Homo sapiens: one gene and its partners. The protein of the gene in region 1 interacts with the protein of each later gene in a biochemical or structural test. Each region holds a gene or a part of one and is shown in the gene's direction. Other genes may lie near its edges.

Region 1 (3,500 bases):
AACTCCTCAAGAGGCTGAGGCGGGAGGATCACTTGAGCCCAGGAGTTCAAGGCTGCAGTGAGCTATTTCGAACCACTGCACTCTAGCCTATAAGCAACAGAGTAAGACCCTGTCTTAAAAAAGAAAAAGAAAGAAGGCAGATGCCTGATTCTGAGGAAGTCCCCGAGTTAGCAAGTGGTTATTGGATAAATGATCAAGTGCAACGCGTTGTACCAGCGTTGGCACAGCTGGGAAGACAGTTGCTCTGCAGCTCAGAAGGCAGGAGCCCTGGGAGGCCCTCCTGTGATCTCAGGGCTTGCTGGGTGCGCGAGACGCTCCATGACTGTGGCTCTGGGCCCTAGAGAAACCCCTCCACCCTTTGAGTTAATGGTGTTCAGTGGCTCCCAGCTGGGACCCCTGGTGACCATTCCAAGGTGAGCTGGCGTCCAGCCTGTCCTGAGGCCGAGCAGTGCTCCTGCTCACCAGATCTGGCCTTTAGTCATGCTTGGAAGGCAGGGCCGCTCAAGGTCTTCCTGCACTGTGCCCAGAGAGGGAAAGGAGAGTGGCCTGGGACACAGAGCCAGTCTGTCCTAGGACCCTCTCTCCAGCTTGCACCTGGAACCTCGGTGCTGGCTGAAGAGGAATCCTCATACTCCATCCCTCCTCCAGGGCCCAGGACCCTGTCCGGCGTCTCATGGCCCAGCGAGCGACTCTTGCCCTCCCCCTGCTACCACCCGCTGTGTTCGGGGGGTCTGGCCTCCCCCAGCAGCTCTGAGTCCCACCCCTACGCCAGCCTGGACAGCAGCAGGGCACCCTCCCCACAGCCAGGCCCCGGGCCCATCTGCCCCGACAGCCCCCCAAGCCCGGACCCCACCCGCCCGCCCAGCCGCAGGAAGCTCTTCACCTTCTCCCACCCTGTGCGAAGCCGCGATACTGACCGCTTCCTGGACGTGCTGAGCGAGCAGCTGGGCCCCCGGGTCACCATCGTGGATGATTTCCTGACCCCGGAGAACGACTACGAGGAGGTGGGCACGCAAGCAGGTGTGGAGGGAGGCGGGTGAGGCGAGGTGTGGCGGTCTGCAAGGCAACAGTGTTCCTGGGCTCCCGCAAGGGGCCTGCTGCCCTTGGGATCTTCCCCAGGCTATCCCACTCCCTAGCTCAAGCTATCCCACCCCTTGCCCCAGGTTACCCTATCTCCTGTTCAAGGTTATCATGCTCCTTGACTGAGGCTAGCCCATATTCCCTGTCGCAGGTTAGCCCATTCCTTAGCTCAGGCTATCCCACTCACAGCCTGAGGCTAACCCGTGACAGGGTCCTGTCCTTATTCCAGGCTATCCCCCTCACAGCCTGAGGCTTACCCATGAGAGGGTCCTATCCTTAGCCCAGGCTATCCCCCTCACAGCCTGAGGTTAACCTGTGAGACAGTCCTATCCTTAGCCCAGGTGTCCCTCACAGCCTGAGGCTAACCCGTGAGATGGCCCTGTCCTTGTCCCAGGCTATCCCATGATCCTTCACTTTGCACCTGCTCTAGTCTCTCTGGGCCCAGCCTCACCCTCCCCTTGCCTCTCTCCCCACCACCAGATGAGCTTCCATGATGACCAGGGCAGCTTCGTAACCAATGAGCGGAGCAGCGCCAGCGACTGCATCAGCAGCAGTGAAGAAGGCAGCTCCCTGACCTACTCCTCCATCTCTGACCACATCCCCCCACCCCCGCTCAGCCCCCCACCACCGCCACCCCTGCCTTTCCATGACGCTAAGCCCAGCTCCCGCAGCTCTGATGGTTCCCGGGGCCCTGCTCAGGCGCTGGCCAAGCCCCTCACCCAACTCAGCCACCCAGTCCCTCCACCACCCCCACCGCCCCTGCCCCCACCCGTGCCCTGTGCACCCCCCATGCTGTCCCGGGGCCTGGGCCACCGGCGCAGTGAGACCAGCCACATGAGCGTCAAGCGCTTGCGGTGGGAACAGGTGGAGAACTCAGAAGGCACCATCTGGGGTCAGGTAGGTGACCTGGGACCCAGCAGCGCTCTGTACTGGGGGAGGATGGCTTGGGCAGCAGCACTGAAGGAAAACCCATCGGCCAGGCATCTTCCAACATCATCCTCCCTACCCCAAGCAGAGGATGAGTAGAGGCCCAGCCCAAGAACGTCCCCACGCTTGGGGGCCACTGCAGGCATTGAAGCCAATCTGTGTCCCTCAGCCAAAGACACACACTGGGGACACCTGGAAATGCCACCCTACCCATCCTTGAAACCTATCACTTTTGAGGCCAGACAAGTTCTCTTAAACCTTTAAAAGAGCAGCTGGTTCAAACTCCTGCACACCAGCCTTCACCCTTTCACTTTGATGCTTGAAGTTCCTCCCTCACAACACTGGCAGTGTATGCTTGAACACCTTCAGTGGTGGGGAACTCACTACCTGTCAAGGTCTTCCTTTCCTCACTGGACGATTTTAACCATCCTTTGTCTTGCTCTGAAATCTTGTCTCCCCAGGATTCCCATGCCCTGTTTTCTTTCTGGCCCTTAAAATCGGGCAGAGCAATCTTATCCACAGACCAACCAATCTGCAAGATGAACAAGGTTCACCCCACCCCTTTTTTTTTTTTTCAGATCATTCTCTTAGAACATGGTTTCCAACCCCCACTCCAGTGTCCATGTCCCTGTCAAAGAGACATTCCCAGATGGAACCCCCAATGGGGCTTGACCAGCTCAGAGGAGAGAACAGGGTTCTCAGCTCCTTTGACTGGGACATCATACTCCTTTTAATATGGCAGGGGCTCCTTCCAGCTCCCAGGGCTGCCCCGTCCCAGTGCTCATGATCACCATCATCCTCAACTCCATCTTCTTGGGATCAATAGCTCACTCTCACATGTAGTCACACTGGGCAGAGGCATGCTTGTGATTTTTCCCCACTGCCATCTCCTGGGTCCCAATTCTGTCTCCTGCTTTCTCAGCCCACATCTCCAGGGACCCTTTCCAAGTTGCTAATAAAGATGCCCATTGAGGCCAGGCTTGGTGGTTCACGCCTGTAATCCCAGCACTTTGGGAGGCTGAGGCGGGAGGACTGCTTGAGCCTAAGAGTTCAAGACAAGTCTGGGCAACATAGTGAGATCTTGTCTCTACAAAAAAATCAAAAAGTTAGCCAGACCTGGTGGTGCATGCCTGTGGTCCCAGCTACTCGGGAGGCTGAAGAGGGAGAATCACTTGATTCCCACAGGTGGAGGTTGCAGTGAGCCAAGATGGCACCACTGCACTCCAGCCTGGGGTACAGAGTGAGACCCTATCTAAAAAAAAAAAAAAAAAAATACCTCAGTGAGACAAGGGCACAAATAAGGACCTCCTGGGTCCCCTGGAGACCTCACTCCTGCCAGCCTTGGACCGATCTTCAAGTATTGCTCCACAGCGTGGTTCTTCCATTGGTTACCAAAGGTGGACACAGGGACACAGGTCACACATGTGGCCAAACCCAAATCCATCCTCAGTGTCCCTGCCCTGCAGCCATGTTCTAAGACTTCATTCCCCTGC
Region 2 (3,500 bases), on another chromosome or scaffold:
ACTTTGTGATCCGCCTGCCTCGGCCTCCCAAAGTGCTGGGATTACAGGCATGAGCCACCGCGCCCGGACTGATTATCTTATTTACACATGAGAAAACCAGGGCTTAGAAAGGTTAGGTAACTTCCTCTAGGTTGTACAGTAAATGTGGACCTAGAAGCATTTTGACAAGAGCACCTGTTTTTTTTTCTTCTCTATTAGTTTAGAAATTATATACTCTTAATTATCACCTGGGATTTTGATTAGACAGCCTTCATGTTCTTTTTCATCTTAAATGTTCTTTGTGTCTTAAAGGGCTAAGTGATTTCTTCAGATCTTTTAGTTCACTCATTCTCAGTGAACTAAAATGAGGTCTAATCTGCTACTGAATCAAGTTTTCAGCATGTTATTTCCTTCCTCCCTCCCTCCCTCCTTCCTTCCCTCAACCAGGCTCCCGAGGAGCTGGGATTACAGGCGCCCGCCACCACTCCTGGCTAATTTTTATATTTTAGTAGAGACGGGGTTTCACCATGTTGGTCAGGCTGATCTTGAACTCCTGACCTCAAGTGACCCACCTGCCTCGGCCTCCCAAAGTGCTGGGATTACAGGCATGAATCACCACACCTGACGGCATGTTATTTTCATCGCAAAGTTACTGTAAGCTGGGAGAAGTGGCACACACTTGTACTCCCAGCTACTCAGGAAGCTTAAGGTGAGAAGATTGCTTGAGCCCAGGAGTTTTGAGACCAACCTGGGCAACACAGCAAGACCCCAGCTCAAACAAAGAAAAAAAGTTATTGAATTTTTTATTTCTATGGATCATTTTTTGTAGTTTCTTATTCCTTTCACCCTTCATTCCCACTTTTGATCCCATCTTTTATTTATTTAGTTTTATTAAATGTATATTTGTCTGATAATTCTGCTATCTACAGTTTTTTGTGGACCTGACTCAGCATTTCTTTGTTTCTTCGGATTCAGACTGTTGGTGGCTTGTGATTTTAGTGATTTTTGGCCGTGAACATGTTTCTTGGACTTTTGTCTGTGGGAATTCTCTGTGTACTCTGTATAAATTAAGTTACTTCAGGTGTTTTGCATTTTCTTTTGCCATGCACCTGGGGCCTGGGTCACTACCCTTCTGGTACCACTTAAAACTGAATTTTTGTCTTGGGTGCTCGTACTGATCCTGTATGAGTACAGGTTTATACTTACTGTAGAAATATGGTGTTTGATTATGGGGTATTGTCCCAGATGGTGCTGGAGTATTAATATGCTCTCTGTTAAACTTAATGTGTTGTCCCTGTAAAACTCCAAAATTCTGAATTCCAGAATACTACTGGCCCCAAATGTTTAAGATAAGGGCACTGCCTGTATTTGTTTCTGCCTCCCACTATTTTCCTTAGTTTAACACAAACTCACCTTTTTAAAAAACATTTTGAGAGAATTCAGTATTGGGAAGAGTTTCTAACCTGTTTCTGGAAATGGAAGTCCAAAGTCTGTTTCTGTAATTGTTTTTTTTTTGAGATGGAGTCTCACTCTGTCACCCAGGCTGGAGTGCAATGACGTACTCTCAGCTCACTGCAACCTCCACCTCCCGGGTTCAAGCGATTCTCTTGCCTCAGCCCCCTGAGTAGCTGGGATTACAGGTGCCCACCACCATGCCTGGCTGATTTTTGTATTTTTAGAAGAGATGGGGTTTCGCCATGTTGGCCAGGCTGGTCTTGAACTCCTGACTTTGTGATCTGCCCACCTCAGCCTCCCAAAGTGCTAGGATTATGTTTCTGTAATTGTAATACATTTATTGTTTTTAGAAACTGTCTTTGCTTTAGTGGTAATTTTCAATAAAAATAGAAATAGCAGTGGAGTTATTAAAAGAGCATTAGTTACATTTTTCCCTTTTTCATTATCTTCAAATATTATATATAGTAAGTTTGACCTTTTTAAAATGTATACTTGTATCAGTTTTAACACATACATAGATTCCTGTAACTGTCACCACTATAAGGGTAAAGAACAGTTAGTTCCTTCACCTTTGAAGTCAAGCCCCACCTCTATCCCAACACTTGGCAACCGCTGATCTTTCTCCGTCTCAATAGCTTTGCCTTTTCTCTTTTTTTTTCTTATTTTTTTTTTTGAGACAGCGTCTTGCTCTGTCGCCCGAGCTGGAGTGCAGTGAGGCAATCTCGGCTCACTGCAACCTCCGCCTCCTGGGTTCAAGCAGTTCTCCTGCCTTAGCCTCCCTAGTAGCTGGGATTATAGGCACGCACCACCACACCCGGCTGATTTTTTTGTATTTTTAGTAGAAATGGGGTTTCACCATGTTGGCCAGGCTGGTCTCAAACTCTTGACCTCAAGTGATCCACCTGCCTCGGCCTCCCAAAGTGCTGGGATTACAGGCGTGAGCCACTGTGCCCAATCAGGACTTTTTTTTTTTAAATTTACATTCAACTTGTCATTTTTTTCTTGTATGGATTGTGCCTTCAGAGTCACACCTAAGAGCCCTTTGCCTAAGCAAAGGTCATGAAGATTTTCTCATATGTTTCCTTTTAAAAGTATTGTGGTTGGCCAGGTGCCATGGCTTATGCCTGTAATCTCAGCACTTTGAGAAGCTGAGGTGGGCAGATTACGAGGTCAGGAGATCGAGACCATCCTGGCTAATGCGGTGAAACCCCATCTCTACTAAAAATACAAAAAAAAAAAAAAATTAGCCGGGCGTGGTGGCGGGCACCTGTAGTCCCAGCTACTTGAGAGGTTGAGGCAGGAGAATAGTGTGAACCCGGGAGGTGGAGCTTGCAGTGAGCCGAGATCGCGCCACTGCACTCCAGCCTGGGCAACACAGTGAGACTCCATCTCAAAAAAAAAAAAAAAGTATTATGGTTTTACACTTTACGTTTAGATATATATCTTTTTTGAGTTAATGTCGTATAAGTATGAGGGTTACGTCAGATTTTTTGTTTTTTGTTTATTTTTACATATGGATGTCTAGTTGTTCTAATACCATTTGTTGAAAAGACAACCTTTACTCCATTGAATTGCCTTTGTACTTTTGCCATATTTGTCTAGGCCTGTTTTTGGACTCCTTTTTCTGTTTCATGATGTGTGTGTCTATTCCTTTGTTAATACCACATGGTCTTAATTACTGTATAGTAAGTCTTAAAATTGGGTAATGCTGGCCTTATAAAACGAATTGGGAAGTTTTTATTTTTACTCTTATTTCCATTTTCTAGAAGAGATTGTGTAGAATTGGTGTCATTTCTTCTTTAGATATTTGGTTGAATTGGGAAGTGATGCCATCTGGGCCTAGGGTTTTGTTTTTTGTGTGTGAGACAGAGTCTCACTTCTGTCACCCAGGTTGGAGTGCAGTGGTGAGATCTTGGCTTACTGCAACCTCTGCCTCCCAGGTTCAAGTTATCCTCCTGCCTCAGCCTCCCAAATAGCTGGGATTACAAGCGTGTGCCACCATGCCCGACTAATTTTTGTATTTTTAATGCAGACAGGGTTTCACCATGTTAGCCAAGCTGGTCTCG
Region 3 (4,158 bases), on another chromosome or scaffold:
TGTGTTTTCAATGAAATGGATGTCTGAGGAGAAAACCATTAGCCTGAGAAAACCCAAACTGTATTCCCATTGTGAATAAAAGGAAGTCCATAAAAATGATGGAAAATGTTCTGCATTCCTGTTATGATATCAAAATCTGGCAGTACATGAAAATTTTTCAAAGTGCTTATTTAACAGGCATAATCTTTGGTCTCCTGAGCCAGAATCTGCTGGGTATGGGACTGGATTGCTATTTTGACAACTCGCCAGTAGATTCTTACTCAGCAGAGTATTTGGAAGCCTTACTCTAATATTTTGGCCTTGGGTCTACATTTCTCAGTTCTGCACAGTCATTCTTCCCCTCTACACTACTCTTTAGTTTGTCTCATGATTCCAATACTCTCAATAATTAACCAAGAATAGAACTAATCAATCAGATAACTGTGGCACAGACATCAAATACATTTTGCTGCAACCATATCAACAAATGTCCCATGAATGATAAGGGGTAACCATATTCTCATATATGCATCCTCACATTACCACATATATATATGTGCATATGTGTATACAGGTAAAAGTGTGTATATATGTATACATGTATGTTTGTGTGTATATACATACATATATCTTCACACTTTTCTGAAATATATATATTTATGTGAGAGAAGGGTCTGTACTTTATTTCAGAAGAGAGCTTAATGTCCAAGGTATAATTGAGAGTCTAAAATGTTTGAGTTATTGAATTAATTAAACTTCATCTCTACTCAAGAAAACTTTTAACTGAGTTAAGCTCTTCCTTTCTCCACAAGTCAAGTCAATAAAAGGAAACTGTGATATTAATAATTCTTTCCTGTTTTGATGTAAAGAATCTATCGCATAAAGCAGTCTTAATTTTCATCATTCAGAAAAATGGTCTTGCAGTTAATTGGGACTCTCTTATTCCAGGTGGTATCTCCAGTCTCCATACATACCACGTTAGAACCATACTTATGTACCAAGCAAAGAGGGTATATTTTAATTTTTAAATGCCAATGTAACCTGTAGGCATATTTTTTATTTGTCTTAAATTATTTCCTATTTGGAAGTTTTAAATACCTGGAATAATTTATTGTACTCATATTTTTAAAGAAAAAAATCTTATGCCACCAACTTAATTGAATAAACAAGTAAAAGCCATTCCCAAAAGTAAGGTTTACTTGTTAAGATTAACAAAAAATAATGTGAGAATTCTGAGAAATATAATCTTTAAATATTGGCAACTGGAGTGAACTCTTAAAACTAACTAGGTTTTATATGTTTGACTAGAGCAATGACATAATAAGGTGGTTAATCATCACTGGACTTGTTTTCAAAAAGCCAACTACTTTAAGAGGAATAAAGGGTGGACTTGTTGCAGTTGCTGTAGGATTCTAAATCCAGGTAAGAACCATTGAGATTCTCTAATTTTTACATATATTTTATGTAAGAAATTTTCACGGAAGAAGATTTTGATGGTCTTGAAAAATATTACGAATTTTATGCTCTGTGTCTTCCACACGCTTACATTCTGAGCCCTTAAAACATAGTAAATATTCCTTCTGGGAGTAGAAGAGCCTCAGGTTTATATACTGTTAAAAATAAAGTAGAGAAAATAATACCTTTATATATTTAAATATAAAGTTTCAAATCTTGGTCTTATTAATTTCCAAACAAATAAAAATCAAGTCTCAAAAATGAAGCTCTAGTTACCTTCTTAAAATATGCTACAGGATAATTATTTTTGTCAACTACATTGACTGATCACACTAGACTCCTTATTTCTTTGATGTCTTCTTAACTGGATGAAGGCAGCCAAGGGTGGGAGTAGAGGGAAGAGTTAATTGGCAAACATAAAAAACAGGTGTCTCAAAGTCACATAACCACCTCAGTTTCCTTGTTTCAACTCAAGTTTGATACAGGGTGAAGGGAAATATATTTTCTAGATAATTTATCTCCAATTAAATAAGCAAAAAGTCTTCTCAGTACAGTTTTTTTCTTTTTTTATTTCATTATTATTATACTTTAAGTTTTAGGGTACATGTGCACAACATGCAGGTTTGTTACATATGTATACATGTGCCATGTTGGTGTGCTGCACCCATTAACTCATCATTTAACATTGGGCATATCTCCTAATGCTATCCCTCCCCTCTCCCCCACCCCACAACAGTCCCCGGTGTGTGATGTTCCCTTTCCTGTGTCCATGTGTTCTCATTGTTCAGTTCCCACCTATGAGTGAGAACATGCGGTGTTTGGTTTTTTGTCCTTGCGATAGTTTGTTGAGAATGATGGTTTCCAGTTTCATCCATGTCCCTACAAAGGACATAAACTCATCATTTTTATGGCTGCATAGTATTCCATGGTGTATGTGTGCCACATTTTCTTAATCCACTCTATCGTTGTTGGACATTTAGGTTGGTTCCAAGTCTTTGCTACTGTGAATAGTGCCGCTATAAACATACGTGTGCATGTGTCTTTATAGCAGCATGATTTATAATCCCTTGGGTATATATCCACTTATGGGATGGCTGGGTCAAATGGTATTTCCAGTTCTAGATCCCTGAGGAATCGCCACACTGTCTTCCACAATGGTTGAACTAGTTTACAGTCCCACCAACAGTGTAAAAGTGTTCCTATTTCTCCACATCCTCTCCAGCACCTGTTGTTTCCTGACTTTTTAATGATCGCTATTCTAACTGGTGTGAGATAGTATCTCATTGTGGTTTTGATTTGCATTTCTCTGATGGCCAGTGATGATGAGCATTTTTTCACGTGTTTTTTGGCTGCATAAATGTCTTCTGTTGAGAAGTGTCTGTTCATGTCCTTCACCCACTTCTTGATGGGGTCGTTTGTCTTTTGTAAATTTGTTTGAGTTCATTGTAGATTTTGGGTATTAGCCTTTTGTCAGATGAGTAGGTTGCAAAAATTTTCTCCCATTCTGTAGGTTGCCTGTTCACTCTGATGGTAGTTTCTTTTGCTGTGCAGAAGCTCTTTAGTTTAATTATATCTCATTTGTCATTTTTGGCTTTTGTTGCCATTGCTTTTGGTGTTTTAGACATGAAGTCCTTGCCCATGCCTATGTCCTGAATGGTATTGCCTAGGTTTTCTTCTAGGGTTTTTATGGTTTTAGGTCTAACATTTAAGTCTTTAATCCATCTTGAATTAATTTTTGTGTAAGGTGTAAGGAAGGGATCCAGTTTCAGCTTTCTACATATGGCTTGCCAGTTTTCCCAGCATCATTTATTAAATAGGGAATCCTTTCCCCATTGCTTGTTTTTCTCAGGTTTGTCAAAGATCAGATAGTTGTAGATATGCGGCACTATTTCTGAGGGCTCTGTTCTGTTCCATTGGTCTATATCTCTGTTTTGGTACCAGTACCATGCTGTTTTGGTTACTGTAGCCTTGTAGTATAGTTTGAAGTCAGGTAGGGTGATGCCTCCAGCTTTGTTCTTTTCGCTTAGGATTGACTTGGTATGCGGGCTCTTTTTTGGTTCCATATGAACTTTAAAGTAGTTTTTTCCAATTCTGTGAAGAAAGTCATTGGTAGCTTGATGGGGATGGCATTGAATCTATAAATTACCTTGGACAGTATGGCCATTTTCATGATATTGATTCTTCCTGCCCATGAGCATGGAATGTTCTTCTATTTGTTCGTATCCTCTTTTATTTCATTGAGCAGTGGTTTGTAGTTCTCCTTGAAGAGGTCCTTCACATCCCTTGTAAGTTGGATTCCTAGGTATTTTATTCTCTTTGAAGCAATTGTGAATGGGAGTTCACTCATGATTTGGCTCTCTGTTTGTCTGTTATTGGTGTATAAGAATGCTTGTGATTTTTATACATTGATTTTGTATTCTGAGACTTTGCTGAAGTTGCTTATCAACTTGAGGAAATTTTGGGCTGAGATGATGGGGTTTTCTAGATATACAATCATGTGATCTGCAAACAGGGACAATTTGACTTCCTCTTTTCCTAATTGAATACCCTTTATTTTCTTCTCCTGCCTGATTGCCCTGGCCAGAACTTCCAACATTATGTTGAATAGGAGCAGTGAGAGAGGGCATCCCTGTCTTGTGCCCGTTTTCAAAGGGAATGCTTCCAGTTTTTGCCCATTCAGTATCATATTGGCTGCAGGTTTGTCATAGATAGCTCTTATTATTT
Region 4 (3,500 bases), on another chromosome or scaffold:
GTGTGCAGCTTACTGGGACCTGGCTTGCAGACCCCTGGCCCTCTGTCCATACTGTGCATGCAGAGACCCACGTTGCTTTTGGGGTCTGGGGTGGGCCTGAGAGGGTGGGGAGGAGATTGTCCTTGTAACCTCTGCCCACCCTGCCCAGCCAGTTTCTTCTTTCTACAGGGACGGTGCCTTCAGAGCCCCCCAGTGCCTGTGCCTCAGACCCGTGCGCTCCAGGGACCGAGTGCCAGGCTACCGAGAGTGGTGGCTATACCTGTGGGCCCATGGAGCCCCGGGGCTGTGCCACCCAGCCATGCCACCACGGCGCTCTGTGTGTGCCCCAGGGTCCAGATCCCACCGGCTTCCGCTGCTACTGCGTGCCGGGTTTCCAGGGCCCACGCTGCGAGCTGGACATCGATGAGTGTGCATCCCGGCCGTGCCACCATGGGGCCACCTGCCGCAACCTGGCCGATCGCTACGAGTGCCATTGCCCCCTTGGCTATGCAGGTAACAGCCTGGGCCGCCCTGGGAGGAGGTCTGTAATGCAGATCGCATCAGCTGCTCAGAGTGTAAGCATCATGGCTTCAGCTTTGCCTTTCGTGTAGGGACGCCCCCAGGCATCCGGGCAGCTCTAGGGTATATCCACTTGGTCTGACTACAGAACTGATGCCTGGCAGCTCTGGGTGAGAGTATGTATGTGCGGGTGCTGGCGTGGTGTGTGGCGCATCTCAGGCACTCGGTAAATGTGATTTCAGTCCAGCCTAGAGTTCAGTTTGGCTGCGGGGGTGGAATACCCCTCATTCATCTCTGGCAGTGTGAACCTGCCTGGCGTGACTTTAGTGAGGATGCCCAGATAGTCTTTCTAGCACTTCAGGCCTGTGCCAAGCTGTCATGTAGACACTGTCTACACGACAGTCACCATCAGCTCATTTGAACACTCCTGATGTGGTCTGGAGTGCAATGTGGACCCCTGGCCTCTGGGTCTCCCCCAGAGTTCTAGCATAGACATACAAGGTCTCGTTCAAACTGTAGTGTTGACATACCCCAGGGATCGCTGCTGTCTGGAGTGGGATAATATATACGTAAGTGCTCAGAAAAGTGACTGGCACTAAGGGTACCTTCTCCAGAGTGTGGCCCGTCCCAGGCCCACCCATGGTCTGAGCCGAGAACATCCTGGAGCGGCTTCCCAGAGAGGCCTGAAGTCGGGAAGGAGGGCGCAGCTGGGGACAGAAGGGGCGCAGTCTGGGAGCGAAGCTGAGTCCAGGGCAGAGTCTGAGTCTGCAGTGTAGATGCTCTGGATCCTACTTCAATCCTGAATTCAGACAACTGTACTCTGAGGGCAGAGGGCAGTTTGAAGTCACTTCAGAGCAAGAGGTACAGATTGGGGGGCTGGGTTCCAGGGCAGGGGGCCTACAGCGAAGAGATGGCAGCTGATGAAGAGAGATTTGGGAAGCTGGTTCCATGCATCTTTCTCATCGTTCCAGTGTCTCAGCGTCTGGGTGTATTAGTGTACATGCCAGTGCAGGTCACATTCGTCCATGTGTCTCCTAGTTCCAAGTTCTGTTTTGCATCTGTAAAGATCTGCCAGTACCTGGGGGTGTCTGCAGTCTGAGTGCATGTGTGGGCAGTGGGTTGTTCGGGCAGTGGGTTGTGTGGGCAGTGGGTTGTGCGGGCAGTGGGTTGTGCGGGCAGTGGGTTGTGCATCCGGATGTGTAGCACTCACACACTTCGGGTGACTCTTCCTGGGTAAGCTGTGGATGTGAGTGGGGGCAGCATCTGCCGTGACTCATTCTCTCCTCTTTCCATTCCAAGCCGGGTGGGGGAGTTTGGGATTTCCAGACAAGGCCTGGCTCCCCCTGGCACAGAGGGTGGGAGTGGGGATGGGGAGGGAGGAGGGAAGGGTCATGGGAAGGTGGGGCCATGTTTTGTGCTCAATGAACTGAGAAGGGGGAGGGTTCCAGCTGGAGTCAGCTGGGCCTCTGGCCCCCGCTTGACCAAACCCACTTAGGGGGCAGGGCCTGCTGGAGTCTACAGTGACACGTGAGTCCAGGATGATCTCAGGCAGCGTATCTGAAACCCTGGGACTCCCCATCTCCCTTCCTCTTCACCATCACCCTGGGAGAGCCACTCAGCTGTCGTGATTCGCCCAGGACTGCGAGGGTTCTGGGGACTTGGTACTTTCAGTTCTAAAACCAGGACAGTGCAGGGACACTGGGAGGAGTGATTACCCTACTCAAGCATCTCCTGCCTCTCTGGGATCTGAAAGCCACCAGAGTGGACCTTCTAAAAAGTAGGTAGGGCCAGGTGTGGTGGCTCACGCCTGTAATCCCAGCACTTCGGGAGGCTGAGGTGGGTGGATCACTTGAGGCCAGGAGTTGGAGACCAACCTGGCCAACATGGTGAAACGCCTTTTCTACAAAAAAATACAAAAATTAGCCGGGTGAGGTGGCATGCACCTGTAATCCCAGCTACTCTGCAATCTGAGGCACAAGAATCACTTGAACCCAGTGGGCAGAGATTGCAGTGGGCTAAGATTGCAGCACTGCACTCCAGCCTGGGCGACAGAGTGAGACTCTGTCTCAAAAAAATAAAAAACAAAAACAAACCCAAAACAACTAACTAAAATGTAGGTGGGACCAAGTCACTTACCTGTCTGAAACTTTCAGGATGGACCCAGAGGTTACCTGGTCCCCAAGGCACTGACACCTCCCACCCGACTCACCTCCGCCACCCTCTCCCTTGCTTCCAACCCTCCAATAACCCCGCCTAGGGCATCATGGCCCTGCCCCTAGTGGAACTTGCCTCTTGCTGCAGTCTCTTTGGAATCCAACTGCTGCCCACAGTCCCCTATCTGAATCCTTCAAAAGCCTCTTCTTCTAGGAAGCCTTCCCTGAACAGAGCAGACCCCGGCTATTGCTTTCCCAAGACCCAACCCCTTTCCTTGTTGAACTTGGCAACATCACCTAGCTCATTTAGGTAATTACTGGCTGAATCACCCCCCACCATGTCCTGGCCTAGACTGCTGTGAGCCCCATGAAGGCAGGGCTGTCTGTCTCGTTTCTCTCCCTGCGGTTGCTGGCATGACCCGTCCCCCACCCCCCAACCACCACCACCACCATCCGGCTCTGAATGAATGAATCCACGAGTCTCTAACTCTGGAGCAGGCCTGGCGCGACCTCTTCCGCCCTGCTCTGGGTGTCCATCCTGCACCCTGTGTGTCCCCTGCCCTGTCCAGGCGTGACCTGCGAGATGGAGGTGGACGAGTGCGCCTCAGCGCCCTGCCTGCACGGGGGCTCGTGCCTGGACGGCGTGGGCTCCTTCCGCTGTGTGTGCGCGCCAGGCTACGGGGGCACCCGTTGCCAGCTGGACCTCGACGAGTGCCAGAGCCAGCCGTGCGCACATGGGGGCACGTGCCACGACCTGGTCAACGGGTGAGCGAGCGGCGGGGCAGGCGGCAGGGGCGCCGGGTGCCCGAGGGCGGGGAGGCCAGGCGCGGGGCAGAAGGGGCAGGCGCG
Region 5 (3,500 bases), on another chromosome or scaffold:
AGAGTGAGACTCTGTCTCAAAAACAACAACAACAACAAAGAAAAACCTTCAGATCCAAGTTTCTTCCTTTGTAAAAATCATTATGGTGACTGCAATACATGGTATTCAAATGCAGGTACCCCTTTTTGTTGGTGCAGTTTCATGATTTCAGAGTTTAGTATTTAAAGTCTGAGCTACTTACGCTTTGATATATATGTTGCATGAAAAAGGGTCAGATGATCATGGCATTCCTTTCCCTAGACCATTTTCAAGTTATCTCCTGATTATTTTGATTCCTATTTCTTGAGTTGCCAGTGATGGTAAACATTTTCAAGAAAGTTATCTATTATTTGTATTTTCCCCAGAGCTAGTTTAAGTTCCAGTAAACTCTCAGAAGGTTTAGAAGGGCAGGGAGGGAGAAGTTAAGGAAAACAGTGGGAGAGGCTGACAGGAAAATTAAGGGAAGAGGACAGAGGTCCCCAGGCTGAAGTCTCAACCCCTTCCTCCTGCTGGATTTCTGTGGCCCCATCCCCAGTTTTCCCCTGGGGCAGGATCCATCCTTTATCCTCAGAGTCCTCCTCCTTGGGGATAAATGACCATAACTAGGACCTGCTTCACCATCATCCTACCTGGAGCAACCCAAGCCAGAAAAATACCCTTTCCCTCTCCCTGGAGGAACAGCATCTGGGAACCAGGCATACAGCAGGAAATTGACAGTATTTCCCTGATTTTTGGGGTGCACTTCGCTCCCATCCTGAATGGCAGTGATAGTCTGTCTGTTGGGATGTTGGGAGGACATGAGTCAGCTAACATGAGTCAAGGGGCTGTACAGGGCCGGCTCTGGTCAGCCATTAGGGATGGAGTAGAATGGAAATGGTATTAGAAGTAGAAAAGGAGCCAGGTGTGGTGGCTCATGCCTGTAATTCCTGCACTTTGGGAGGTTGAGGCGGGCGGATCACCTGACGTCAGGAGTTCGAGACCAGCCTGGCCAACATGGTGAAACCCCATCTGTACTGAAAATACAAAAATTAGCCGGGCGTGATAGCACATGCCTGTAATCCCAGCTACTCGGGAGACTGAGGCAGGAGAATTGCTTGTACCCGGGAGGCGGAGGTTGCAGTGAGCCACGGTTGCACCACAGCACTCCAGCCTGGGTGACAGAGTGAGACTCCACCAAAAAAAAAAAAAAAAAAAAAAAGAAGAAGAAGAAGAAGTAGAAAAGGAAGGAAGAAGTCGAAAGAATGCTGATCACAGGGAGTGTGGCCTGGGCTTGGTTGTTGGAGAAGGAGCTGGCTGAGTGGAGGGGTCAGTCCATCAGGTGGAAAAGTGGAGAGATGAGGGGCCCCGCATGATGTGAGCCCAGATTCCAGATGGCCTCAATGTCGAGTGGAGCCCCAGAGAATAGGAGGGGGCTATTTTTATTCTTATTCTTTTTATTTATTTATTTTTTAAACATAGAGACAGGGTCTTACTATGTTGACCCGGCTGGTTTCGAACTCCTGAGCTCAATCAATCCTCCTGTCTCGGCCTCCCAAAGCGCTGAGATTACAGGTGTGAGCCACTGTGCCCAGCCCAGGGGCTATTTTTAAATGTAGGTTTTATTCTTATTCAGGTATGGTGAGGCCAACAGATCAGGAGGTGGCTACTGCTGGAAAGACAGTTTGTTCCTCACAGATCCCATGAGGAGGGTGCGGTCCACGCCATTCCGGGCCTGCGGGGAAGCCCCAGGGTTGGTCAGGAAGCAGAGGCATGAAGGGGAAGTGTGAGGATGAACCTTTACTGTGGTTCCCACAGAAAGGAATGGGTGAGGCAGAGCGAGCAGGTTTAGGAGTAGCTGGTGTGAATAATTTCCTCAGGGTCGGGGACCACAGGGGCTGTGCCAGCTGTCTGGCCCCTGGCCCCCAGGGTGTTAGGGCAGGTGATGCTGGCCTTGCGTGTGAAAGCTCAGCAAAGGAAGACCTGGGGTGTGGGCCTGCATTGTTGGTTTGCAGATGAAAGAGGCACTCACTCCCAGACAGCGGTTTGTTTGCTATCAGTGGGGTGGGAAGGGCAGTCCCTCCAGGGCCATAAAGGTCCCAAGATGTCAAAGCATCAAACACAGAAACTAGAAAATGTGGTTATTCTAGTGGGTAGCAAGGGGTGCAGGGAGCCAAGATCCAGGAGGTCTGGAAATGAATGACCAGAACAAGGAAGGGTGGTGGTGAAGAGCATGAATGTCTGACCCATGTCAAATCAGCGGCCTGCATCCCACATGCAGGCAGCAGGGGTAAGAAAGGGGCACCTAAAAGGTGACGCACGGTGGCTCACGCCTGTAATCCCAGCACTTTGGGAGGCCGAGGCAGGAGGATCACTTGAGGCCAGGAGTTCGAGACCAGCCTGGCCAACATGGTGAAACCTCGTCTCTACGAGAAATACAAAACTTAGCCGGGCATGGTGGCAGGTGCCTGTAATCCCAGCTACTTGGGAGCTGAGGTAGGAGAATCACTTGAACCTGGGAGGCAGAGGTTGCAGTGAGCTGAGATCGCACCACTGCACTCCAGCCTGGGCAGCAAGAGCAAAACTCCGTTTAAAAAAAAAGAAAGAAAGACAAAAGAAAGAAAGGGGCACCTAAGAGGGGCCCACAAAAGGAAGTGGAGGCTCGGCCCAAGAACCGTGGGCGCCAGGCCAAGGCGGCTTCTCACTGTCCCCCTTCCCCTCCAGGCTGTCCTTGTGGAGCGGCTGGGACGGCGGCACCTCCTGCTGGCCGGCTACGGCATCTGCGGCTCTGCCTGCCTGGTGCTGACGGTGGTGCTCCTATTCCAGGTCTGACCTCATTTCCTGCCCCCTGGGTGGGGAGTCATGGGGAGGGTGGGAGGTCCCCTGACTGAACCGGGCCCGCTGCACCAAGTGGTTGGTTCTGAGTCCCACTGATGGCATGCATCCTGCCTGGAAAAGTACTTTGCAATGCCCCATCCTGAAGTGAATGTCACAGATGGCTTCATTTACCTACACCTGCACATGCAAATAAGTAACCGGATAGATGGTCCAGCTGTCATGGGAAAGAGAAACAAGGAGGACAGTTTGCAATAAAATATGTGCTTCAATGCGTAAATGCAAGGATGCCACCGCATTAGAAAACATCTATGGGCGGTGAACAGGTGTGGGTTAAGGAAAGACCAGAAGTCACCCCATTCGAGAGGTAGAAGGAGGCTGAGCACAGTGGCTCACTCCTGCAATCCTAGCACTTTGGGAGGCCAAGGCAGGAGGACCCATTGAGCCCAGGAGCTCAAGACCAGTCTGAACAACATGGTGAGACCCCATCTCTACAAAAAATACAAAACGTTTTCTGGGTGTGGTGGTGTGCACCTGTAGTCCCAGCTACTCAGGAAGCTGAGGTGGGAGGATCACCTGAGCCTGGGAGGTCAAGGCTGCAGTGAGCCATGATCGCACCATTGTACTCCAGCCTGGGGGACAGTGAGACCCTGTCTCAAAAAAGAAAAAACAAAACAAAACTACGAATCATTTTTCAGTAAGACTAAAAC
Region 6 (3,247 bases), on another chromosome or scaffold:
CGCCGCACCCGCCAGGTCACCAGATACCGCAATGGAGACGCCTATACCACCACCCAGGTGAGGAGCTGGTGGGGAGTGCAGGACATTCAACATGGGAGGTGGCACTTACGTGCTGCCTCACTCCCTCCCCACCTCCCTGGGGGGAAGGTGGGAGGAGCAAAAGGCAGCAGTGAGCTCCCATGAGCATTGCAACAGCAGGGCAATAGCAACAACCATAATCATAACAGCAAAAACCGACCAGGAGCCAGGCTCTGCTCTAAGTATTTTACACACATCAAATCATTTATTTAACCCTCATAACAACCCTATGATGTAGGCAGGTATTCCCATTTTGCAGATGAGGAAACTGAGGCCTGGAGAGTTTAAGTAATGTGTCTAAGGTCAAATAGGCAGTATGTGGTGGAGATGAGACTTGAACTCAATCAATCTGGCTCCAGGATCTCTATACTGTTTAGTGCTTAATGGATCTACTTAGTGATTAATGGCAGAGTGTGGTGGCTCAGGCCTGTAACCTCAGCACTTTGGTGAGGCAGAAGGATCTCTTGAGCCAGGAGTTTGAGACCAGCCCACCCGGCAGCAACATAGTAAGACCCCATCTCTATAAATAATAAAAAGAAGTAGCTGGTGTGGTGGTATGCACCTGTAGTCCCGGCTACTCAGGAAACTGAGGTGGGAGAATCGCTTGAGCCTGGGCAGTTGAGGCTGTAGTGAGCTGTGATTGCCACAGTGCAAGACCCCATCTCAAAAAAAAAAATAAAAATAAAAATAGTGCTTAATGGCTGGAGATGGCTTCACATGCCCAGTATCATAGCATGCTCTTACCTGTTCAGTGAGGTGACTGCTACTGAGTTCTTTCACAGGTATGGACACCTAAACTCAGTGACTTGTCCAAAGTCTGCTGCTCTTAAGTGGTAGTGCTAGGCTCAATCCCAGCTTCCTGGATGTCAAGTTCAAGGGTCTAAGAGGAGGTGGGCGTAGGAAGTCTCACTGAGGGTGGGCAGGTCAATCAGCACTTTGTGGACTCGCCAGGATGAGACATATTGGGGTCCTGGAGGAGACGTTCCCAGATGCAGGCCATCTGTCTCAGTATAAGGATCAATAGACAGAAGCCTGGGGCGGGTGAGAAGCAGGAAGGAGGCTGATGATAGCTACAGCGTGAACAGGCAGACTAGAGATAGAGGGGTTCTTTAGGGAGTGCTTCTGGGGAACCCATTGGGAAACACAATTGTAAAAGGGAAGAAAGAAGAAGAGGAGGCTGTTTGTGGTGATGTGGGGGCACTTTGGAAAACAGAGGCAGTGGCAAATGGATCAGGCAGGCCAGAGGGGCAGTTCATGGCCAGGGCCTGACCCCTAGAGGAAGCAGGGCTTAGTTAAAATTTAAATGCGCGGCCGGGGGCGGTGGCTCATGCCTGTAGTCCCAGCACTTTGGGAGGCCGAGGCGGGTGGATCACGAGGTCAAGAGATCGAGACCATTCTGGCCAACATAGTGAAACCCCGTCTCTACTAAAAACACAAAAAATTAGCCTGGCGTGGTAGTGGGCGCCTGTAGTCCCAGCTACTCGGGAGGCTGAGGCGGGAGCATGGCATGAACCCGGGAGGCGGAGCTTGCAGTGAGCCGAGATGGCGCCACTGCACTCCAGCCTGGGCGACAGAGCCAGACTCCATCTCAAAAAAAAAAAAAAAAAAAGAAAAAGAAAAAGAAAAAAAATTTAAATGCGCACAGGTAGGGCTGGTTCTAGTCCGGTCATCACGTCTGATTACACAGAGGGCGTCAGTTGCCCTGTAAGTCAGACGGAAAGATCCTAACCAGCTCCAGCCGGCACCTAAACCAAGACAGACTTAGGGTCCGACCAGGCAACCAGAGCACAGATGGGGCGGGAAAGGGTGAGTGGGCAGAAGCGGGCACCAATGACGGGCTCCCCGCGACCCCGCCGCCTGCCCCCCGCGCCGCAGGTCTACCACGAACGCGTCAACACGCACGTGGCGGAGGCTGAGTTCGACTACGCGCGCTGCGGCGTTCGCGACGTGTCCAAGACGCTGGTGGGGCTGGAGGGCGCGCCGGCCACGCGGCTGCGCTTCACCAAGTGCTTCAGTTTCGCCAGCGTGGAGGCCGAGAACGCGTACCTGTGCCAGCGCGCGCGCTTCTTCGCAGAGAACGAGGGCCTAGACGACTACATGGAGGCACGCGAGGGCATGCACCTCAAGAACGTGGACTTCCGTGAGTTCATGGTGGCCTTCCCGGACCCGGCCCGGCCGCCCTGGTACGCCTGCTCGTCGGCCTTCTGGGCCGCGGCGCTGCTCACGCTGTCGTGGCCGCTGCGAGTGCTGGCCGAGTACCGCACGGCCTACGCGCACTACCACGTGGAGAAGCTATTTGGCCTGGAGGGCCCGGGCTCGGCCAGCAGCGCAGGCGGTGGCCTCAGCCCCAGCGATGAGCTGCTGCCCCCGCTCACCCACCGCCTGCCGCGGGTCAACACAGTAGACAGCACGGAGCTCGAGTGGCACATCCGCTCCAACCAGCAGCTGGTGCCCAGCTACTCTGAGGCGGTGCTCATGGACCTGGCGGGGCTCGGGACGCGCTGCGGCGGGGCAGGCGGCGGCTACGCGCCCTCGTGCCGCTACGGTGGGGTAGGCGGCCCGGGCGCGGCGGGCGTGGCTCCCTACCGGCGCAGCTGCGAGCACTGCCAGCGCGCCGTCAGCAGCTCGTCTATCTTCTCGCGCAGCGCCCTAAGCATCTGCGCCAGCCCGCGGGCCGGCCCGGGGCCCGGTGGGGGCGCGGGCTGCGGGGGCAGCCGCTTCTCGCTGGGCCGTCTCTACGGCTCCCGGCGCAGCTGCCTGTGGCGCAGCCGCAGCGGGAGCGTCAACGAGGCCAGCTGCCCCACGGAGCAGACGCGGCTGTCCAGCCAGGCCAGCATGGGGGACGACGAGGACGACGACGAGGAGGAGGCCGGGCCGCCGCCGCCCTACCACGACGCCCTCTACTTTCCGGTCCTCATCGTCCACCGGCAGGAGGGGTGTCTGGGCCACAGCCACCGGCCGCTGCACCGCCACGGCTCCTGCGTAGAGACCTCACTGTGACCTCCGGCCCCGGAGTGGCCCGCGCCGTCCTCCCGCCTGCCCCTCGCCGGACTGTGCTCCCTCTGCGACGCAGGGCGAGTCACCACGGTGACTGAGGCCGCGCGGGGGGCAGGGAAAGGGAGGTGAGGGCCGCAAGACAGGCCCGGATGGGGCCGAGACCCCCGCTGTC
Region 7 (4,125 bases), on another chromosome or scaffold:
AGTGCCTCCTGAGTGCCAGGGAGATCTGTGATTATTTCACACATTCCCTACATCCTACTAGCACCCTCATACAGCAAATAGGAGCCAAGTGGAGCTGGTGTATGTTTCTCTGTTATTGCACCCTGAAAGTTAGACTCCAAACCCACATCCTCATTCCACGCAAAGACTTTATTCCAGAGACAGGGTCAGGTTCACTTCTGCATCTTGGATTTGGGGAAACCCAGATCTTCCTCAGAGAAGATATCCTGGGTGGAGGGAAAAGCCTGGTTCTATCATTAGAGGTTCAAGGCACCCACCACCTACTAGCTGGGTGATCTCTGGCAAGTTACTGAGACTCCATGCCTCATTTGTAAAATCAGGGAATAAATAACCTGATGTTACAGTGTCAAGGGGAGGACCCAGTGGGGCCTTGTGTGTGAAAGTGCTGTGCAAGCTGGGAAAGGCAAAGTGGATTTGCTTTCCCTTGCTGCCCTGTTCGGAGCCCCACCTCTGCCACTCCCTTCTCTGAGCTCCAGGCCTGCAGGCTTGGCTTCTCTGTCCTTCACCGAACCTTCACAGTGGCTCTGCAAGGGATTACTGTCCCTTCTTTATAGATGAGAGAATGGACGCTCAGGGAGATGCTGGGACTTGCCTGAGATCACTTGACCAGCAAATAACAACTGAGGTGGGACCCAGATCTCTCTGGCTCCTGAACCTCCATCCTCAGTCCTCAGTCCAGGAAACTCTGAGAATTTCATATTTTCCATTCTCTTCCCCTCCTCCTTTGCCTAGATGGCTGAAATTGATGGACCTTCTACCATGAGCTCCACCCAGGCAGGCTGCCACTGGATACTTAGTGGACAGAGCCCCTTCTTGCTGTGGATCCTTGGAGCTCAGGGAGAAGATGAGGGATTTAGTGAGAGGGCACGTGGGCTTGAGGGGGACAGGGGTTCAGTGAAAGAGGACAACTGCTAGATGGGGGAACAAGGGCTCTCTATGGGGCCCTCCTATCAAGGGAGGGCAACAAAAGTTCTGTGAAGGGAACAAGAGCTTGGTAGGAGAAGGGCTCAGGTGGGAAATGGGAGTGCAGTGAGGAGACTGGGGGATGAATGTGGAAGGTTGGGGAGCTTGGGGAGACCCATCAGCATCCCCCCTGTGCCCCCACCTCTCTGCTGCTAACAGAGCAGGGGAAAATACCTAAGGGAAATGCTGAGGCAAGAGGCTGGAAAAGGACAGGCTGAGGCTGAGCCTCAGGGAGGCGGGGTGCAGCTTCCTCTTCACAGAGAGGCTGGACTTGAACAAACCCAGCCTTCTATACAACCGTGGAGCCAGGGCAAGGGAGAGACAGAAGGAGCAAGTGACCCAGGGAGACAAACACTTGGAGATACTTGGGGCTGAGTTTGAGCAAGACTCCCTAACCTGTGTCTGGACAAGTCTGATGTCCTGTGTGGCCCAAGAAGAACTGACCCCGTGTCTGGAGCTCCCACCGTTATTGCATCCCTGCTGTGGCTCACCTGCTGCTGTCTCCAGGAGCCCCTGAGAAGATTTGCTTCCTCTCCCCTGCTAAGCTCCAGGTCCTGAGATTAAATTAGGGGCTGGAGCTCACTGCACTCCAGCAGTCATGGGACCCAGGATAGGTAAGTCCGAACAAATTAAGGAAGGGCCATGGAGAGCAAGCCTGGGGGACATGTTCCCAGAGAAAAGGGTGAGGCCGTAGAGCCAGAGTGGGTGGGATGGGTGCTCACAGCTGTTGGCACAGAGCCAGGCACATGGCCGGAGTTCAGTGAAGGTGTGTTAAATGAATGAGTGAATGACTGGAGGAGCAGGAAGGGACACGATTTACTCAGCTGGAGCCAGGGAACCCAGCCAAACCTCGTTGATGAGACCGAGACTTAGAGGACAACAGAAAGACAGGCCCCTGACCCCCTCTTCAAGCCGTTTCCCCTCTCAAAGGAGACAAAGATAGAGACAGACAGAGCAGAGAAAAAGAGAAAAGTGTAGTCAGACAGTGCAGACAGGCAGGCTCAAACGAAGAGGCACACAGGAGGTCGGAGAACACAATATCAACAGGTATCAGCGAGAGAATGCAGGGAAAGGTAGGGAGGTCAAACCGGGAGAGAGGGCTGCAGCAGAGACTGGGAGAGACAAAGAGGCAGGAGACAGAGCAGGAAAGAGAATCAGACGGGGACAGGTGACGGAGAGCTACAGACAGACCTGCAGGCAGCATCAGAAGATCCACCCAGAAGACCAGGAGATTGAGAGTGACCTGCAGAGACCTGCATGGGTCTCTGTGCAGTGAGGTCTCTTACTATAGAGTGGGGAGGAGGCTGGAGGAAAAAGGTCTTGAAGCTCTGCCTGCAGGGTGACAAGGAATCGCCTTGTAGCGAGGGCAGTGTTTCTGGGAACAGAGCACCTGGCCCAACACTTTCTGGGAAGGCAGTATGGGTAGAAGAAACAAAGGATCTTTCTACTGGGAGTACTCCAGGTTAGACGCCCTATAGCAGTCACCTTTGGCCTCTTTCCCAGCTGTTGATCCTCCCCTGGGCTGTGTGAGCCTCACAGCCATTTGGGCAAGGCCCCACTTGCTCCCAGAAGCCCAGCAGGGAGAGCTTCATAGGCCATGGAGACAGACCCAGCTGAGGAGCAGCTGCAGGGACTCCAGGAGAACGCAGCCATGGCTTGGGGACTGCAGTACGGCAGGAAGGGTGGGATGGATGCCTCCTCTCGGGGCACCTCACAGGACAGATGAGAATGAGGTCAGATTTGGGTGGGATGGTTGGGGGGGCGGTGTGAATGGGCCATTGACAAACCAAATTCCCCATCAGCCTTGGCTCAGTATGGATGGGAGGGATGGAGAGCGGGGAGTGTGGGAACTAACTAGAGACTTTGGCTGCACTACACCTCCCCACAAGTCCCCCCAGTACTATTTTTCTGACCCCTGCAGGGCCCAGCTCTGGAATATTCTCCAGGTGCCCACTGACCTTCCACACAGACAGCAGGAAGCTGACCCCAGCATCTGCCTGGTGGGCCATTGGGTGCCATCTCTAGCCTTGCTTCCCGAGACCCATTCTGGGCTGTGGCCAGGCTCACCACACTACTCTGAGGGGTGTGGGAATGTGGGTGGGGTAGGACACAGAGCCTGCAGCCTGGGAAGAGTCCCCAAGGGAGAGGGGAAGCTGTCCCAGTCAGGGCAGACACCAGAGAGGAGTGAAGTTCAGATCCGGCTCCAGCAGAGCCCCTCCACCCACTCACCACATACCCCTTAGGCAGCAGTTTCCCTGCAAGTGCTGGGGCAGCCATTCACACACACACAGTCTGACTCAGAGATTTCATCTTCCCACCTGTTCACCTTTGCTCAGGAAGCCCCTGCCCACATCCCATTCTGGTGACATTTGCCCTGTTTTCCAACTCTTCCAAATGCCAACTCCTCCAGGAAGCCGTTCCAGATTCTTCCAGCTGGGGGTAACCTCTCCCATATGCTGTTTGATGACCTTCTCTTTGAGGTTCATCCCTCCTTGTTTCCGGTGTTGCTCTTCCTCTCTCCAGCCCAACTGTGTTCAAATGTAAGCCATTCTAGGGCAGACAGGTGGGGCGAGGGAAAGAACCAGCAGTCCCAGGTTCAAATTCCAGCACTGCATCACTGGCTTTAAGAGAACTCAGTGAAATGTCCTTCCCCTTTTCAATAGGTGAGAAACTGATGCTCAGAGGGGGCAAGCAAGGTCCAAGCTCACCCCAAAGTAAACAGCAGAGTGGAGGCCAGCCCCCAGGTCTGCCTGGTACCAGAGCTCTTCCTCTCCGTGCCATTGCCCTTGTGGTTTCTCTTCCCTTCCACCAATCCCACACAGGGTGAGCATGGCCAGGGAAGGAGATAGCACTGCAAATGCTTAGAAAAGTGACTACACCTGCATGTCTGTGGAGCTAGTGAGCTGCCCAGTACCGTTGGAGGAGCGGGGGTCACTGGGCAACATCTTGGGAAGTTAAGCCAAAGAAGTTGATGGGGCCCAGTCACAAGGAACTTGTATGCCAGGTTAGGCACATGGACTTTTTCTTAAAGGCAATTGGGAGCTATAGAAAGTATCTGAGGAGGAAGTGGCCCTGCTTCAGTGGCCCAGAGAATCTGTGTCCTGGGAACATTCATTATAACCC

Evidence for each region.
Region 2: the proteins of GRID2IP (region 1) and AKAP10 interact in a test that uses a peptide from one of them, tested with the Homo sapiens proteins (one large-scale study listed by IntAct).
Region 3: the proteins of GRID2IP (region 1) and SLCO1B1 interact in a test that uses a peptide from one of them, tested with the Homo sapiens proteins (one large-scale study listed by IntAct).
Region 4: the proteins of GRID2IP (region 1) and CRB2 interact in a test that uses a peptide from one of them, tested with the Homo sapiens proteins (one large-scale study listed by IntAct).
Region 5: the proteins of GRID2IP (region 1) and SLC2A7 interact in a test that uses a peptide from one of them, tested with the Homo sapiens proteins (one large-scale study listed by IntAct).
Region 6: the proteins of GRID2IP (region 1) and TMEM151B interact in a test that uses a peptide from one of them, tested with the Homo sapiens proteins (one large-scale study listed by IntAct).
Region 7: the proteins of GRID2IP (region 1) and SLCO2B1 interact in a test that uses a peptide from one of them, tested with the Homo sapiens proteins (one large-scale study listed by IntAct).

What each region holds. Positions count from the first base shown.
Region 1 is NC_000007.14:6,506,462-6,509,961, reverse strand, and holds part of GRID2IP (delphilin), read left to right. Parts: intron 1-648; coding exon 649-1,004; exon of another isoform or gene 1,005-1,056; intron 1,057-1,560; coding exon 1,561-1,977; intron 1,978-3,500.
Region 2 is NC_000017.11:19,953,829-19,957,328, reverse strand, and holds part of AKAP10 (A-kinase anchor protein 10, mitochondrial isoform 1 precursor), read left to right. Parts: intron 1-3,500. UniProt on the Homo sapiens protein: Differentially targeted protein that binds to type I and II regulatory subunits of protein kinase A and anchors them to the mitochondria or the plasma membrane.
Region 3 is NC_000012.12:21,129,836-21,133,993, forward strand, and holds the start of SLCO1B1 (solute carrier organic anion transporter family member 1B1), read left to right. Parts: upstream 1-1,358; 5' UTR 1,359-1,401; intron 1,402-4,158. UniProt on the Homo sapiens protein: Mediates the Na(+)-independent uptake of organic anions.
Region 4 is NC_000009.12:123,362,697-123,366,196, forward strand, and holds part of CRB2 (protein crumbs homolog 2 precursor), read left to right. Parts: intron 1-168; coding exon 169-492; intron 493-3,220; coding exon 3,221-3,416; intron 3,417-3,500. UniProt on the Homo sapiens protein: Apical polarity protein that plays a central role during the epithelial-to-mesenchymal transition (EMT) at gastrulation, when newly specified mesodermal cells move inside the embryo.
Region 5 is NC_000001.11:9,009,424-9,012,923, reverse strand, and holds part of SLC2A7 (solute carrier family 2, facilitated glucose transporter member 7), read left to right. Parts: intron 1-2,679; coding exon 2,680-2,781; intron 2,782-3,500. UniProt on the Homo sapiens protein: Probable sugar transporter. Even if its physiological substrate is subject to discussion, it is able to transport glucose and fructose. Does not transport galactose, 2-deoxy-d-glucose and xylose.
Region 6 is NC_000006.12:44,273,450-44,276,696, forward strand, and holds part of TMEM151B (transmembrane protein 151B), read left to right. Parts: coding exon 1-57; intron 58-1,953; coding exon 1,954-3,078; 3' UTR 3,079-3,247.
Region 7 is NC_000011.10:75,149,782-75,153,906, forward strand, and holds the start of SLCO2B1 (solute carrier organic anion transporter family member 2B1), read left to right. Parts: upstream 1-1,325; 5' UTR 1,326-1,600; coding exon 1,601-1,616; intron 1,617-4,125. UniProt on the Homo sapiens protein: Mediates the Na(+)-independent transport of steroid sulfate conjugates and other specific organic anions.